2 linked regions of the Homo sapiens genome follow. The protein of the gene in region 1 purifies or fractionates together with the protein of each later gene. This does not show direct contact. Each region holds a gene or a part of one and is shown in the gene's direction. Other genes may lie near its edges.

Region 1 (9,137 bases):
AGCATGACCTCATGGGCCCAAAGTACTGCTAGCTCTGAGCATCCCATCCTTACACACTGGCCAGAGGTAGAAGAAGAAACTCACCCCTTTACTCTGCCCCAATTTCCTTTCTTGCTCTGTGGACTTAGGCAATCTCCTCTGAGGTTGTTTTTTGGTTTTTGGTGTTTTTGAGATGGGCTCTCACTCTGTTACCCAGGCTGGAGTGCAGTGGCACGATCTCAGCTCACTGCCGTCTCCGCCTCCCAGGTTCAAGTGATCGTCCCACTTCAGCCTCCCAAGTAGCTGGGACCACAGGCACACACCACCACATCCAACTAATTTTTGTATTTTTTAGTAGAGAAAACATGGGTTTTGCCATATTGCCCAAGTTGGCCTTGAACTCCTGGGCTCAAGTGATCTGCCCATCTCGGCCTCCCGAAATGCTGGGATTGCAGGCATGAGCCCCTGCGCCCGGCCCCGAGGTATTTCACGCCCATGTTGAGTCCACGTTGTCCTCTGGCCTCCCCACACCGCTCAGTGTGCCTCTGCCTCTCCCCGACCCTGTTCCTGAGTTGCGCTGTCTGTCCCTGCTTTCTCCTCCCTCACTAAGCTCGGGCTCCCAGTTTCCTTTCCTTTGGGTTAAGTTCCTTCTTGGTCTCCTGGTCTTTGTGTCTGTCTTCTGGTCTTTCTCCTCTGTGTTGTTGCTGTTGATTTCTGTATGTCCTTCCTCATTCATTCTTTTTATTTTCTCCAGCTTTGTTGAGGTATAATTGACAAAGAAATTTTTTTTTTTTTTTTGAGATGGAGTTTCGCTCTTGTTGCCCAGGCTGGAGTGCAATGGTATGATCTCCACTCACTGCAACTCTGCCTCCCAGGTTCAAGGGATGCTCCTGCCTTAGCCTCCCGAGTAGCTGGGATTACAGGCATGCGCCACCATGCCCGGCTAATTTTGTATTTTTAGTAGAGAAGGGGTTTCTCCATGTTGGTCAGGCTGGTCTCGAACTCCTGATCTCAGGTGATCTGCCCACCTCAGCCTCCCAAAGTGCTGGGATTATAGGCGTGAGCTACCCCGTGCAGCCAAAAGTTGCATAATTTAAGGGACACCCCATGGTGTTTGCTGTAGGTATACCTCATGTAAGGGTTCCCACAATCAAGCTAATGAACACACCCATCATCTCACATAGCTACCTGCGGGCAACACAGGTGGGCCTGGGGACATCATACTAAGTGGAATAAGCCAGACATGGGGAGACAAATGTCCATGATCTCACTTATCTGTGGAGTCTAAAAACTCCCCAGGGCTGGGGGTGGGGAAGGGCGATGTTGCTCAAAGGGTACAAAGCTTCAGCTATGAGGCAGACAGGTCCTGGAGGTTGAAGGCACCGCATGGCAGCTGGAGTTAGTATCCTGGAAATGTGCGGAGAGGAGCGCTGTCCCCACCGCCTCTCTGTCTGAATTTCATCTCTCTCATGTGGTGTTTGATTTAGGTCTTTTCGAGGCATTTACACCTTAGCTGATACTGGTGCTGCCCTGAGGTGCCACCTGTCTGGGCTCCGTTTGCCGCGCAGCCTCTCTCTGGTCTGTCTCTGCTCCGCTGTGTCTATGACTGCTCTGTGTGTTCGCATCTATCTCTTGGGTTCCACTGTCTCAAAGAGAAAAAGGGCTCACTGAGGCAGGGCCCTCCCTTCTCGCTGTTTGGGAGTCATGACTCCAGCCGTGCTCCGCTGACACCATGGAAGGCACCAGAGTGCCCCAGGCAGAGGGACGAAAAAAAATCTGTGTTACCAGGAAAGTTATTTGATCAGCCTCTCTGTAGATTCTGGCCCTATGGTTTATAAATGGGTTTCAAAAGAAAGTGGTATGAAGGAACATAGTATTTAAAAACCAATAAAATCCAAAGCTGTCCTCACAGCGGGCTGGCGGGGGAGGTGTTGCAGGTGAAGCCCACCTTCTGTGAGCCCTGTGCCTTCCTACCCAGGTTGGATGGGGGATGAGGGCTCCAGCGGGGAGGGAGGAAGCCAACCATGATGGTTTCCACAGCTTGAAACCCAATGTGGTTTTTCTTCCTAAATGTAAGCCAGTCAATAAGGGTCAAGTACAACTGGCCTGTGGGTTTCCACCTGCCTCTCCTGACTACTCAGAAACCAGGCCCTCTGGTTTCAAATGTAAATTCCATTTCCTGGTACTTCACCATTAGAGCTTTATTTCTGTCATTTTGAAGACTTTTACGCATTAAGACTTTCTTTTTAAATTTTCGATATGCTCAGAGATTTTAAACTGTTAAACTGAGGGCACAGGTGTCATTCTGACATGGCTTGGTTGGCACCCAGATGTGAATGAGACCCAAGTGTCCTGTGGGTGAGGGCCAGGGGCCAGCCAGAGACCAGAGGCAAACTTGATCCCTTCTGACTTTTGCCGAGGGCCCAAGAAGCCCTTCCCTGACAGCTCCAGGCCCCTTGCTGACACCTGCTCCGAACGTGCCCCCACCTGAACTGTCCACTACAGTTTACCTTCTAGGGTCTCAGGACTTTAAGACCATCTTCCTGAGCAAGGACTAATTCCTACATTCAAGAAACTTCAAAGTCATAAACATTTCAAGTACACGGGGATCCACAGCCCAGGAAAAGGATTCCTTTCTGTACACTCAGGGACTACACTAAGGGAAGCTTGACTAAACCCATTTGTATCACAGCCACAGGAAGTAGTTCACAGGGGCACACACTGAAGCCCACCTCCCTCCCTCGTACTGGCTGGACACTGTCTCTGGAGCATCCAGCAGGATGCCTGTGATGGGCAGAGCCTTCGAATGCTGATACTCCGGAAAAGCACGACTTCCTGCTTTCGCAGATGGCCAGCACCAGGTGACCCTGGTGATCCTGGTGAAGTTTTGCATCAGGTGAACCTAGTGAATTCACCTCCCATGGCAAAACTTTAGTCCTAATGAAGACCGAATGTTTCAATTTATTTTAAAGATATATAGTTTCACTTGAAGTGCAATTTAGCGTTTTATTGAAAATATGTGGGAGTTTTAGAAGCTTGAAACTTTCAGCAGCCTGTAGGACTGTTTGGAGACGAACAGACATTTGTGGTACTTGACTAATTAGAAGCTCTTGGATGTCACTCAAGCCACTCCTGTGGGGTGCCCCGAGAATGTGGCATCTTCCCATATGCAGAGAGCACACCAGCCTTACCCACAAGGTGCCTGTGTAGCAGGGAGAGATGGGAAACCTTGTCACAGCTGCCTGACAGTGCCCTGTTATTCCTCAGCCTGGGACTCCCGCCTCCTCTTGTCTGTCCAGGAAACTTATTCCCTCATCTTCTTACCCTCAGGGGTTCAGAGCAAAGGCCATCTCCTCCTTGACTTCGCCAATTAGAATTGGCTTCTCATTCATCTCTTACGCATTTCTTTCACTTTACATAAAAACGGCATGAGCTTTGTCTGTTCACTCACCTTCTCTTCCATAAGACTGTGAACTTCTTGGGATGTTGTAATCATTTTGTGTCACAAATGACCACCACAGTGCCAGATGTTAGTGCTCGATAATCACTTGTGGAATTGCATTGACCACACATCAGCTAATCTGGTACTCATAGAAGCAGCAGTCACCACGGAATTCAGTCTCAAACTTACTGTGCTTGAGTCAGAGGAAATGTGAGATACTCAGAGGTCTACCAAGCTCTTTATCTTCTCTTCAGTCCTCTCCCATTCCATCATCTGGGCAAGAGCCTTTATCAAGTTCACTTTCTTTTCTGGTATTTGGTAAGGATAATTTGGATTTCGGTTACAGTGGGTCTTGATATTATACCTACCCTAGATTTAGTGGTTTTGGAGGATTTCATTACATAATCACATGAAGTAGTGTTCCATGATCACTAGAGATTTTGGTATACGTGTATTTTACCAGGAGAAAAACAAAGGCAAACAGATTTATTGTTCTAGCAATGAATTCCAGTGAAATCTGAATGATTTTCCCTCCCAAGTTCAACAGAACAGTTTTGTTGCCTTCAAATTTGGGGAACTAATGAATGTCCCATGAAATATTTCCTTTCCAATTTTGTCAGATCAGGTCAAAATACTATTGTTGGTACAACACAAGCCTTGACTTAGGCCTGCCTGCCTTGGGGCTTTTGTCCTGAACAGGATGCCCATGAGTTGGTATAGGTGGCATTCAGCACTCCTGTCTCCGGCCAGTATTACTGGCTCCCCTTCCGAGGGAAGCATGGTCGGGTTGGTCCTCCCTCATTCCCGGAGTCTGTGTCCAGTTGGAGGTCCATCTACCTCTTCCCGTGCTGGGTACAGAGTGTCTTTGTGTTTGCCTAGAGCCAGGATGCCTGAGGGTCCCAGCAGGGATACAGGGCACTAAGAGGCTGGTTCTGAGAGCACAGATTACTACCCTCCCAGCAGAACCTTAAAGGAAGCAGGCAAAGCAGTTTTCATGGGCACTTAACTGGCACACCATCTTGAAAAGGAGCAAAAAGTGGTGTTTGGTGTCCTTGTGGGGTCCTGCACTTCTGTTTTTAAAGAATAGTCATTATAGATCCTTTAATACATAATATGAAAATCAATTGCACTATTTAAATTCACAAAGCACTCCCACATCCGTGATCTTGCATAAGCCTCTTGGTATCCAGTAAGGGAGGTGAGACAGGTTTCACTCGTATTTTCCTCTTAGAGATGAGTCGTGGGAACAACGTGCAACGGCACCCAAGTTCACCAAGCAAGGAAGGGGCAGCGCCAGAGTCGTGGTGCTAAACTCCCGGCTTCCACTCCGGAGCAGCACCGCTCAACGCGGGTCTCCAGGAAACCCAGAGAGCCTATCTGACCTCACCTCAGCCCGGATGCAGCATGACTTTAAAGCTCTTATTTAAGGACATTCTGACCTCTCTACCCACCTTAGCCAAAATAGACTACACAAGTATTAACGCAACATCTGACTAGTCCAGGGAGCAAAACAACGCGAGGATTTTGCAGTTCGCACTGCAAAAGAGCAAGCAAGACTTGTCAACTCACCACCGCACTCGTTTCTGCTCTTTGCAGGTGGTGATGGTGCTATGTCAATGGGCTCGGTTTCTCCCTGTTTTTAAATACAAACTCAACACGTGCACAAGAGGAAAACAGAGCAGGCTGCACGGGGTCGTGAGCCCGCATTCTCGGCCCTGCTGCAGCCCTTGGTGAGCATTTCTAGGAAAAAAAAGAAAAAAGTGTTTCCCTTTAAGGCGGATCCCGAGCGGCGCTGCCGCCAGCAGCGGGTCTGAGGGCCTTGCCCTAGACCCAGGTCACCCCGCCCGGGTATTCCCAGCGCGGGCCCTGATAAGCCATCTGTGTAGACGTTTCCTAGAGCGGGACCGGCTGCGGAGGGCGGATGCGTCTTTGTTCTGCAGCCGCGGGAGGGAGGCGCCCCGAGGGCTGCCTGAGCCCCCGCCCTCGGGCGCCTTTGTCCGCTCCGGCGGAGGGAAGGCGCCGGTTCCGCGGAGGGCGGCTCCTGGCCGAGCTGCAGGGCCCGCTGGCAGGCGGCGGTCCCTCGCTCGCTGTGCCGCTGAGGTTTTGGCTGCGTTTGCTGATCAACAATTAAAGTTTGGTTCGGCAGAGAAAAACATGATGACAAAGTGTGCATAGGGATGTTTTAAGGAAGGAAAACATAATGACGGCCCCAAGCTGGAAGAAAGAGCAGCCGGGCCGAAGTTGCGTGACAGGAACGCCCGCGACTGCGCGGCTCCGGAGCAGCTGCACAACTCGCCCGGGCCGGGAGCTGTCCCGGGCCGAGGCTCATTAGGTATGCGGCGGCTGCGGGCACTGATTGGCGGGCAGTGCTGTGGGCGGGGCCGTGGGCGGAACCGCGTGGGGGCGGGGCTGCACGGAGCTGGTTCTTGTAGGAAGGAGTAGAAAGAGGAGGAGGGATGGGCACCTGGAACCACAGGGCGGCGCTGATGATTGGAGGTATCGGCAGAGGCGGGGCTCTCCCGGGCGGGGCGGTGGGCTCTCATTGGCAGTGCTGGTGGTGGGTGGGAACGGGAGGGGTGGTGAGCGCTGATTGGCCGTAGTGGCGGGGCGGGGCGGAGGAGGAGGAGGTGTGCGTGCCGGGGCGCGGAGCGGCGGGCGCTGATTGGTGGTAGTGGTGGTGGGCGTGGTGTAGGCGTGGCGCGTGGCCGGCGCTGGTACTCGCAGGGGAGGCGGAGAAGGAGGCGGAGGGAGCGATTGTGGCCCCGGCCGCGGTGGCCGGCGCGGCCTGCCCTTTGTGACCGCAGCTCGCGCCCCACGCCCCGCGCCCATGGCCGCCGTGCCGGGCTCCCTGGCCACGCGTGCCCGCCCGCGGACCTGAGCCCCGCGCCTGGGATGCCGGGGATGCGCGTCCCCCGGCCCTGCGGCTGCTCCGGGCTGGGCGCGGGGCGATGGACCTGAGCATGAAGAAGTTCGCCGTGCGCAGGTTCTTCTCTGTGTACCTGCGCAGGAAGTCGCGCTCCAAGAGCTCCAGCCTGAGCCGGCTCGAGGTAATGCGGCCGCCCTCGGGGCGCGCAGGTGCCGGGCACTGAGCGGGCCGTGGTCGCCCGAGCCCGCCTCGCCACCCCTGGGTGGACCCCGAGACCCGTCAGGGAGTTCAAGTTACTGGAAAGCTGGTCCGGTTCCGAAAATCGAACCAAACGGCTCCAAACGTTATCGCTGGGACTCCGTAGTAATTGGGCGGTCCGTGGGTCCTCGCGGGGGCAACTCCACCCCCACTGCATTTCCAGCTGGTTTCTCCGCCGCTGGCTGCACGGGGTGTGGGATGGTCCCCTGTGGGCCACAGGGAGCCCCGGGTGAGGAGGGGCTTTCTCTGCAGCTAGACCGCCGAGTGGCGCGGAGCGCTCCGCGGGGGTCCCTCAAAGTCCCGAGTGGAGAAGCCCCCCAGCTCCGCCCTCCGAGGCGCTGATCAGGTGCTGTCTGCCGTGCCCGGCCGGCAGGTTCCACCTTATCTTGTAGCTCATTCGTGCACTTGAAGTCAGTGTAGAATTCACAGAACGGGGAAGAACAGGCAGCAGCACAATCTGCTTAGGCGTCTAAAACGGCGTTCAGGAGTAAAGAGCCTGATGCAATATCCTCGCAGCGCCGAGGCTGATACAGATTCGTCCTGAAAACCCAGAGTACTCCCAAAGCCCTGTCCTTTCTACCTGTCCCGCATCTTGGCATCTTAGAGTTTCCTTGTGGACGGTTCTCTCGTGGTGTGTTTTATTTCAACCATCAAATCTTATTCTCTTATTCCCAGTGTCCAAATCACATTGTTGAATCTATAGATGACAAAACAGTGAAACGTGTTTAAGTGAAAAAGACATGGTGATGGGGAGACTGAGGCTGGGACCCAAAGATTTCGCCTGACACTGTCCCGCCTTTGCCTCAAGGCTGGCACCTGTGGGGTTTTGGTTGGTTTGTTTCAGCTGGAACAATCTCAAATGTTTCATCTTGGTTTTCTTTGTCCCAGCTGCCATGATATTAGACACAGACATGGGTTCTGTAACCATTGAGAGACCTGAGGAATAGACAAAAAAGTAGAAGAGAATTACTTGTTTAAAAAGTTTCTCTTATGGCATCCCTAAATCAGAATTGGAAGTACTAGATAGGATCAGTATGGCCGGTTCCCGAGGGTAAAACACATCTTTCAAACAAAACTGTTAATCCAGTACTGGAGGAGGGCTTGCTTTTAAGTCTAATATTGAAAGAAATGAAGCACACCAGTGAGGCAAATCATTTTCCTGGGACACAGGCACTTAAAAAATCTGAAGTTGACAAGATCAGAAACTCAGAACAGTATTTATCTTTATCCGGATACATGTCTTTGTTTCCTGTTTCATCTCAATGCCAAGTTTATTAGACAACTCCTTGTCTCCTTCCATTTACTGTCTTTGCCAAGAAGAGGTACACGTGTGAGCACACTCCAGGCATTGTTTATGAAGAGCAGCACTAGACACTGGCTGACCAGTGGGAGTTCAGGAATCTGCCTGATTCTGGATACACACGCCTCTGGTGTCACAGGGTTCTGCAAGGAGGGCTGGGCTGCAGGCGTGCCTCCGGAAAGAATACAGTGGGAAACAAGCGGGGGGGGGGGTGGGGGGGTGGTGGGAATAGGAAACGAGGTTTCTTCCATGTAGAAATAAAATTTCTAGAAGTCATACATAAACCATCAGCGATGTAGGAGGTCAAATGGGCTGAAAATACATGTAGTCTAAGAGCAAGTAGTCAATTAGTGCTTCCTGTGTGCCAGATCCCGTACTAGGTGCTGGAGGTCTCACTAAGATGGTCAATAATGGCCGGGCGCAGTGGCTCATGCCTGTAATGCCAGCCCTTTGGGAGCCTAAGGCGGGCGGATTATGAGGTCAGGAGATCGAGACCATTCTGGCCAACATGGAGAAACCCCATCTCTACTAAATATACAAAAATTAGCTGGGCATGGTGGCGCGTGCCTGTAATCCCAGCTGCTCAGGAGGCTGAGGCAGGAGAATCGCTTGAACCAGGGAGTCAGAGGTTGCAGTGAGCCGAGATTGCGCCACTGCACTCCAGCCTGGCGAGAGAGCGAGACTTGTCTCAAAAAAAAAAAGGTCAATGCTAATACAATGCTCTCTTTTTTACAAATGCATTCCCCAGCTTTCTATTATTTGATACTTGTGAAAATCGGGGTAGCATATGTAACTTTCCTCATTCTATTGCTAAGGGGAAGAAACCCTGAGAGTTTGAGAGTCTTGTTAAAAGCTTTCCAAGGAATTCATTCTGCAAGTGTTTATGGAGGACCGGGTCTTGGGCTGGTCTTTTTCTGGATACTGTGTCCAAAAAGACACGAGACATAGAAGTCCTGGCCTCAGGGCACTTCCACCCAGTGATGAGTCTCACAAGCAGCTGACTTTGTGCCCCAGTCCAGTAAGTTCCTCTTCTGCGCCCTACCCATACTTGAGAAGGCTGCCTGTTCGTTTGTGTGTTCACAGCTGGTTATAGGCCAAGAAGCACTCATCAAAAAATGTAAAACTGAGCAGGGGAGGTCTGTCAATGGATTGAGGTTGAGAAATAGGACACAAAGTACTGAACACAGATGTGTATTTCCTCTGTGTGGATGAATGAGAAAGATAACTTGTTTTATAATAGGAAACATTTTAAAATTGTTTCTGTGAAATTTATATTTTGAAATATACAAAGA
Region 2 (8,561 bases), on another chromosome or scaffold:
CCCAGTAGTTTGAGGCAGTAATGTCCTGTGATTGTGCTTGTGAATAACCACTGCACTCCAGCCCGGAAAATAGCATCAGACCCCTGTCTCTTCTTTTTGTTTGTTTTTTCTTTTTGTTTTCTGCTTGTTTCTTTCTTTGTTTGTTTGAGACAAATGATTCCTATGCCTCAGCCTCCCGAGTAGCTGGGATTATAGGGGCGCACCACCACACTTGGCTAATTTTTGTATTTTTAGTAGACGGGGTTTTGCTATGTTGGCCAGGCTGATCTCAAGCAATCCACCTGCCTCTCAAAGTGCTGGGGTTACAGGCATGCGCCACCGCACCCAGCCAAGACAAAACTGCAGCTCTTGCCAATGACTTGTCAGCCACTGCAAACCACAAAAGGTCATGCACTGTCTCACAGCATAAACTAATCCTAAATTCAAAAGCCAAAAAAAAAAAAAGGAGTCCACCCGAGCGGAACTTACCTATAACCCTTGAGGCTCCATGAGGAAGACCGAGGACCTCAAAAGGCATCTGTGGCTCTGTGGCACCTCTCTGATATTCCTCCGGGAGTCTCAGAAGTCATCAGCAGTGTCCTTTAGGTCCCTTTGTCAGTTGCCAGAACTGTCAAAAGACAAAATTACAATGAATTTAGTTTACAAATCTTTTTTTTTTTTTTTTTTGAGACAGAGTCTCTCTCCGTCGCCCAGGCTAGCATGCAGTGGCGCGATCTCAGCTCACTGCAACCTCCACCTCCCAGGTTCAAGCGATTCTCTTGCCTCAGCCTCCCAAGTAGCTGGGATTACAGGTGTACACCACCATGCCCAGCTAATTTTTGTATTTTAGTAGAGATGGGGTTTCACCATATTGGCCAGGCTGGTCTTGAACTCCTGACCTCAAGTGATCTGCCCGCCTCGGCCTTCCAAAGTGTTGGGATTATAGGCGTGAGCCACCGCACACGCCTTTTAGAAATTTTTTTTTTTTTGTTTTTTGAGACAGAGTTTCGCTCTTGTTGCCCAGGCTGGAGTGCAATGGCACGATCTCGGCTCACTGCAACCTCTGCCTCCCGGGTTCAAGCAATTCTCCTGCCTCAGCCTCCTGAGTAGCTGGGATTACAGGCATGCGCACCATGCTCAGCTAATTTTGTATTTTTAGTAGAGAGGGGGTTCTCCATGTTGGTCAGGCTGGTCTCGAACTCCCGACTTCAGGTGATCCGCCCACCTCGGCTTCCCAAAGTGCTGGGATTACAGGCTTGAGCCACTGCGCCCGGCCTCAGCTTTTATAAATCTTAATTGGCTTTTATTTTCTATTCTAGAATCGGGCAACATCTCATTCTATAGAGTGAGTGTTTTGATGAGCTGAGCAAAGGAGGTTGGGTTTGTAGATAGAAAAGGGCCAAGGAAAGTAGAAACAGAGAATACAAAGCAGATTGGTTGTTTCAGGTATTTTCCCTATAAAGGTCAAAGCAAAGGGGCCTTCCTTATCCTGCCAGCTAACACCAGTCTGTTTGAGGATTTGGCCATTATCTGTCTCTCCTGATTACTCAGAAGGTCAAATAAACTTAGTTTCAGCTTGGTCTTGTGGAAGGTGAGTAACTGCATTTTGGTTTGGTCTTTTGGGCATAGTAGAAGAGCTCAGTCCAAACCAATGGCCTCTTATAATTTAATTTTATTTATTTATTTACTTTTGAGACAGGGTCTCACTCTGTCATGAGGATGGCAGGTGCTACTTTGGAGTGCTGGAGTGCAGTGGTGCGGTCTCAGCTCACTGAAGCCTCAACCTTGTGGGCTCCGGTTTTAGGGTCAGTTTGTGCTGTGAGAGAGCGTGTGACCTTTTGGGACTACAGGCAGGTGTCACCACGCCCAGCTAATTTTTTGTATTTTTAGTAGATACGGGATGTCGCCAGGTTGCCCAGGCTGCCTCTTATTATTTATACTCCTGATTATAAAGTACAGGATTTCTGTCTATTTAGGTTTCCAATCCATTCAGATTTTTATGTTATAGATGATGACTGCTGCTATTAAGAAAATGAGGGCAAGAGTAAATATAGGCAGAGTCTCCAATACATCAGCAACCTGTTATTTGTAGTGATGATCTGTTAGGAAGGGCTAACCCATTTTCCTTCTTGAAAGGGAGGCTTACGAAAAGAAAAATAGGTCAGGTGTGGTGGTTCATGCTTGTAATCCCAAGCACTTTGGGAGGCTGAGGCAGGAGGATTACTTGAACCCGGGAGGTCAAGGCTAGTGTGAGTCATATTCCCACCACTGCACCCCAGCTCGGGCAAAAGAGCAAAACCCTGTCTCTATATAAATAAGTAACTCTAGGATTCCCAAATCTTGCAGATGAAGAAACCCCCTTCTCTTTTTTGGCTGGGGTGGGGAAGACTAGCCTGTTCTTTGTTTTCCTTGGGAAGTTACAGGATTACTGATGAACAAAATTACTGTTCAGGGAAGAGACATCCAGTGGCTTCTATGTCCAGGCCCATTCCCAGGAACCACATTTCCAGAGGGGCCTCAACCCCTGAGGCCTCAACTGGCCCCTTTCCAGGTATCCAAGAACAAATCACGAACAAGCAGTGGGAAACAAAAACCAGCCTGACCTCAGCACCTGCTCTCACCCCAAAGGGAGGTGAGGGCTGCTGGCATTGGTGGGTCCTGGGCCTAGCCTCTAGCCAGAGGATGTGGGGACCTCTCTTGGGGGCCTGCCCTTCCCACACCCCCTCTCCCAGCCAGGCTGTCTTGGACATTTCTGGGACTCCTCTGAGGGATCATGGTTCTTGCTCTGGGGTTTTCTTTTGTCATTTTAACACTGAGGCATCCCAGCCTCCCTTCCTGGAAGATGGAGTATTTGCACTGTTGCCTTTTCTTTTGTCCCTGTTTTTGTATAAAAATGACAATACTCTCCGTCGGACTGTATTTTAGCCCAAAAAACAAAACTAAACCCCTTTTTCTTTGATACTCCAGGTTCATAGAGCCAAGCCTATCAATTTTTTTCTTGTTCTTTGTTTTTTGGTTGGGGAAAGGGTTTTCTAAGAAATACTGAATTTTCCTTACCTAAAAGTAGTCCAGGTTAAACAAGTCAAACTTTAAATGTAATACCCATTGCTTTAAAATATTCTAGCAAAGAAAATAAGGTCTGGAAGATGGTGGTAGGGGATAGATGAAACAAGACTGAAAAGTGTTGACAATTTATGAAGTTCTGGAAATTCATTCTGCTCTTCTGTTTGACATTTTCCACAGTAAGGAGTTTTTAAAAATACTAGCTTTCTCTTATTTTTTACTCTAACAACTTCCTTTTGCTTGTCTTTGACAAGTCCTGGCTCAGGAGGAGAAAAGCTGCACAACCAGTCTTTGTGTATGTGTGTGCAAATCTCTGTGTGTTCACTTGTGAATACAGTTTCATTAGGGGAGGGTTCACCTTTGTTATGTATTATCAGTACATAATAAATATATATGTTTTCTTTTATTTTTTTAGAGACAGGGTTTCACTCTGTCACCCAGGCTGGAGTTCAGTGGTGGCAATCATAGCTTACCACAGCCTCTACCTTCTGGGCTGAAGCAATCGGCCTCCCAAGTAGCTGGGACTACAGGCCCACGCCATCACACCCAGCTTTATTTATTTTTTGTATAGACGGGGTCTCCCTATGTTGCCCAGGCTGGTCTGGAACTCTTGGGCTCCAGTGATCCTCTCACTTCAGCCTCCCAAAGCGCTGGGATTATAGGCATGAGCCACCACGCCAGGCCTATATTTCATTTTAAAACAACGAAGTTCTCCTTCCTCACATACCTCAAATTCGGGGGGTACCAAATCTCTGATATTATCCCAACGATTTTTTTATAACCAAGGTATCACAATTCCTTTCAGAAAGGGTTCTTTAGCCACTCACACCACGGGTTTCGGTGGCACAGCGCAGGGCAGCACAGACTTGTGCTACAGCTCTCGGCCCTACCCAGAGCAGGATGGCCCTAACCTAATTTTTTTGTTTGTTTGTTTGGAGATGGCGTCTCACTCTGTCGCCCAGGCTGCAGTGCGGTGGCACGATCTTGGCTCACTGCAACCTCCGCCTCCTGGGTTCAAGCGATTCTCCTGCCTCAGCCTCCTGAGTAGCTGGGATTACGGGCACCCGTCACCACACCCGGCTAATTTTTGTGTTTTTAGTAGAGACACAGTTTCACCATGTTGGCCAGGCTGGTCTTGAACTGCTGACCTCAGGTGATCCGCCCTACCTCGGCCTACTAAAGTGCTGGGATTACAGGCGGGAGCCACCGCGTCCGACCTAATTTTTTGTATTTTAGTAGAGACGGGATTTCACCGTGTTGCCTAGGTTGGTCTCGAACTCCTGACCTCAGGCAGTCCACCCGCCTCTGCCTGCCAAAGTGCTAGGATTACAAGAATGAGTCACTACGAATGAGTCACTGCGCCAGGCCCCTAGCCTCACTTACTTTGGGCCTCAGTTTCCACCGCCTGAAAAAAGAGCAGTTCGATTGCACCCACTTCCCCGGGCCCCGCCCAAACCATGGGCAGCCCCGCCCAAACCATGGGCAGCCCCGCCCAAACCATGGGCAGCCCCGCCCAAACCATGGGCAGCCCCGCCCAAACCATGGGCAGCCCCGCCCAAACCATGGGCAGCCCCGCCCAAACCATGGGCAGCCCCGCCCAAACCATGGGCAGCCCCGCCCAAACCATGGGCAGCCCCGCCCAAACCATGGGCAGCCCCGCCCAAACCATGGGCAGCCCCGCCCAAGGGCGGAGACTGGGCGGAGCGTCGCGCTCTCCTCCACCTCCTTCCGACTCTCGGAGGCCCCCCACCCAGTGCCCGCGGCGCATGTGCCAGGCACACCCCACCCCCAACCGGCCCTGGATTCCACTTCCGTTCCACCATCGCTGCTGGAGCAGCTGCCTTCAGGCCCTGCGCCGCCTCCGGAGTCCATGGCCGGCACGCGCTGGGTACTCGGGGCGCTGCTCCGGGGCTGCGGCTGTAACTGCAGCAGCTGCCGGCGCACCGGCGCCGCCTGCCTGCCCTTCTACTCCGCCGCTGGCTCTATCCCGTCGGGCGTCTCGGGCCGCCGCCGCCTGCTGCTGCTGCTCGGGGCCGCCGCGGCCGCTGCCTCCCAGACGCGTGGCCTCCAGACCGGGCCTGTGCCTCCCGGGAGGCTGGCGGGGCCTCCCGCTGTGGCCACCTCTGCCGCGGCCGCGGCCGCCGCGTCCTACTCTGCCCTCCGTGCCTCTCTGCTGCCGCAGTCGCTGGCGGCGGCGGCCGCCGTCCCGACGCGCAGCTACAGCCAGGTACGTGGGCGCCGTGAGGGACCTGGCGCGAGATCCCTCCCGGGCCGCGTGCACGCGCCCCCGCGCCCCTCCGTCCCTCCGTGTGCGCCTCGCGGGCACGCCCGGGGATCCGCGACACTCGCCGCACACCCGCCCCCGTCCACCCTGTGCTCCTATTGGGCCCTGGAACAAGGGAAGCTCTCCCAGGCGTCGGGTCTTCTGCTTGTTTTGTTCTCGCCTCGAGTCTCTGGTCGGTTGGGCAGTGTAAGTGTGGCTGGGGTGAATGTTGAGGCCTTGTTCCCCGCCTGGCCCATGGTAGGTTTCGTGAGGCTGCTGACGCCCCCACCTCGCATCTTCTTGCTTTCCGCCGGCTGGTTGTGAAGTTGCGAGGCCCGAGCCCGCCGGAGGGTTGGGAGTTTCCGTGCAGCCCGAGCGCTAGGCCTGGGCGGCCCTCGGCGCCTCTCGGTCGGCCGCTGCTGGGAAGGTGCGCGCACACAGTTGCGTGGGCTGGCTTGTAGGGAAGGAGCCTGTCCCCATCGCGCCGTTCCCTCTCCTGTCCCCAGGGAAAGACGAGCTGTCCCGGTTTACTGAAGGTCACCTCTGCAACTCCACTCATACAGAAGGTCTTTAAGGACTGTGTGTCGCCTCGTCTGGGAAAGCAGTTTGGAGATTTAGCTGTTGGGGGGAGGGGGTGAATGGGAGGGAGCGTTGAGGGTTGAGGACACAACTTGGGGTCCCAGGAATGAATTTGCAATGTTTTCCTTTCCATTTTTTCTTTATTTTTTTAGAAAAGTCGGTGTGTAGTTAGATTGCAAATATTTTGTGCTTTGTAGATGAACCTTTCTCTTCTTGGTACGTGGCATCTGGGAAGTGTCTGCACACTTTTTAACTACCCAGCCCCTGATTCCTTAGGTCATATTTATCTTAATTCAATTTGTGCTTCTCCTTTAACTTAGGGAGACTGGGAGGCTAATCAGCATGGCTGCTGTCTGCCAGTGGCTGAGCTAATTGATTTGAATCCTGGCCCAATACTTTACGCTGCCTTTTTCTGTAAAAGCTTGTGATGCTTATGGAATTATGGAAAAATGGGGAAAGTTGTCTACAAAAACCACAACAAAACCATCTCCAGTAAACCTTTGTGAGCTAGCTTCTCTCTTTTTTTTTCTATGAAATTGACTGCGGTGATATCTGTAGAGCATCTACTATGTGTTAGACACTGCTTACATTTATTCCTTAAAACTAAACATTAAGCCTTTTTTTTTTTTTTTTTTTGGAGACCGAGTCTCGCTCTGTCGCCCAGGCTGGAGTGCAGTGGAATGATCTCGGCTCACTGCAAGCTCCGCCTTCCGGGTTCACGCCATTCTCCTGCTTCAGCCTCCCGAGTAGCTGGGACTACAGGCGCCCGCCACTGCGCCCAGCTAATTTTTTGTATTTTTAGTAGAGACGGGGTTTCACCGTGGTCTCGATCTCCTGACCTCGTGATCCGCCCGCCTCTGCCTCCCAAAGTGCTGGGATTACAGGCGTGAGCCACCGCGCCCGGCCTAACATTAAGCCTTAATGAAAATTATAGATAGGGCTGGGCGCGGCACTTTGGGAGGCTGCGGCGGGTGGATCACCTGAGGTCAGGAGTTCGATAGCAGGCTAACCAACATGGTGAAACTCCGTGTCTACTAAAAAAATGCAAAAAAATTAGCCGGGCGGGGTGGCGGGCGCCTGTAATCCCAGCTACCCGGGAGGCTGAGGCAGGAGAATCCTTTGAACCCGGGGAGGTTGCAGTGAGCCGAGATTGTGCCATTATACTCTAGTCTGGGCGACAAGAGCGAAACTCCGTCTCAAGAAAAAAGAAAAGAAAAGAAAATGACAGATAGTAGAAAGATATCTCTGTCCTTAGTCCGGTAGAGTGCAAGTCTTTTTTTTTTTTTTTTTTTGAGACGGAGTCTTGCTCTGTTGCCCATGCTGGAGTGAAATGCCGAGATCTCAGCTCACTGAAACCTCTACCTCCCGGGTTCAGGCGATTATCCTGCCTCAGCCTCCCGAGTAGCTGGGATTACGGGCACACGCCACCACACCCGGCTCATTTTTTGTATTTTTAGTAGAGATGGGGTTTTGCCATGTTGGCCAGGCTGGTCTTGAACTCCTGACCTCGTGATTCGCCCACCTCGGCCTCCCAAGGTGCTGGGATTACAGGCGTGAGCCACCGCACCTGGCCCAGTAGAGTGCAAGTCTTAAAGCCTGAGTTGTCTTCTTAGGTTATGGTTGTAGTGCTTCGTGGATTCTTACTAAATTCCAGTTTTACTTAATCCGATAAAAGAGACTTTACAAGTCTGTAGCCTCACACTGCTGCCGTTGTCTTTAAGATCTTTCCCTTAATCACTTGGTCTGGCATACCAGCTGACAGAGGAATATTCCCAAGGCGTCCTGCTGTCTTGTTGATTTACCCAGTCCTCAGTGTCTTGTATTAACTTATCTTTGCCTACCAAGTGAAGGACACACATTGAGCTCCACACTCAAGGCCCTCTGCTCTATGGTACCAACCTCTTTTGCCAGGTCACCTTCTTTGGCTCCTAATTTAAACAGTTGGAATTAATTGCTGTTATTCAAATGGGCATTTGGTCGTACTGCTTCTTTCTCTCGCCTTCAAACTGGAATACCCTATCTTTTATATCCTCATAAAAATTCTATCCTTCCTTCAAGGCCCATCTCATGTCACATCCTGATTCATCTGTTAGTGCTCTGATTTGAATTCCTGTAGTATTTTGTATCTTAATTATAGCACTCAGTATCTCATCTTGTATGCTTATCGTATTCTAGATAGCTATTTCAGATGAGGGCGGCAAACACTGTGTGTAGGGGCAATCAAATATTTGTCAAATTGTCAGGACCTTTCTTGTGTTGCCTTAACTACACTATTGTTAGCTATAATTTGGGGTTGATGAATTTTAAAACAAACCCTGAATGAAATTTGTGTCCTGCCAAACCTTTAGGATATACCTGCTTATGGCTTTTGGATGTACAATTTAAGCCAAAACAGGATGGGTTACATTGGTGAAGTTTACTTTTTGCTTCTGAAATAACATCTAGAATGTTAGTTTGTAGAATAAACATTTTCTAAGAATTTTTTTACATTTTTTACCTGTAAATGCAACTCTTTTTACAATTCTTCATTTCCTTTGGAAGGAGTCCAAAACTACTTACCTGGAAGACCTTCCACCACCCCCTGAGTATGAATTGGCCCCGTCCAAGTTAGAAGAGGAAGTGGATGATGTCTTTCTCATTCGAGCTCAAGGACTGCCCTGGTCATGCACTATGGAAG

Evidence for each region.
Region 2: the proteins of RPS6KA2 (region 1) and GRSF1 purify together in Homo sapiens (affinity purification with mass spectrometry; 2 studies listed by BioGRID and IntAct, with this or other methods). This does not show direct contact.

The regions. Positions count from the first base shown.
Region 1 is NC_000006.12:166,624,252-166,633,388, reverse strand, and holds the start of RPS6KA2 (ribosomal protein S6 kinase alpha-2), read left to right. Parts: upstream 1-6,137; 5' UTR 6,138-6,369; coding exon 6,370-6,468; intron 6,469-9,137. UniProt on the Homo sapiens protein: Serine/threonine-protein kinase that acts downstream of ERK (MAPK1/ERK2 and MAPK3/ERK1) signaling and mediates mitogenic and stress-induced activation of transcription factors, regulates translation, and mediates cellular proliferation, survival, and differentiation.
Region 2 is NC_000004.12:70,836,179-70,844,739, reverse strand, and holds the start of GRSF1 (G-rich sequence factor 1), read left to right. Parts: upstream 1-4,849; 5' UTR 4,850-4,912; coding exon 4,913-5,269; intron 5,270-5,478; exon of another isoform or gene 5,479-5,560; coding exon of another isoform or gene 5,561-5,563; intron 5,564-5,594; exon of another isoform or gene 5,595-5,748; intron 5,749-8,425; coding exon 8,426-8,561. UniProt on the Homo sapiens protein: Regulator of post-transcriptional mitochondrial gene expression, required for assembly of the mitochondrial ribosome and for recruitment of mRNA and lncRNA. Binds RNAs containing the 14 base G-rich element.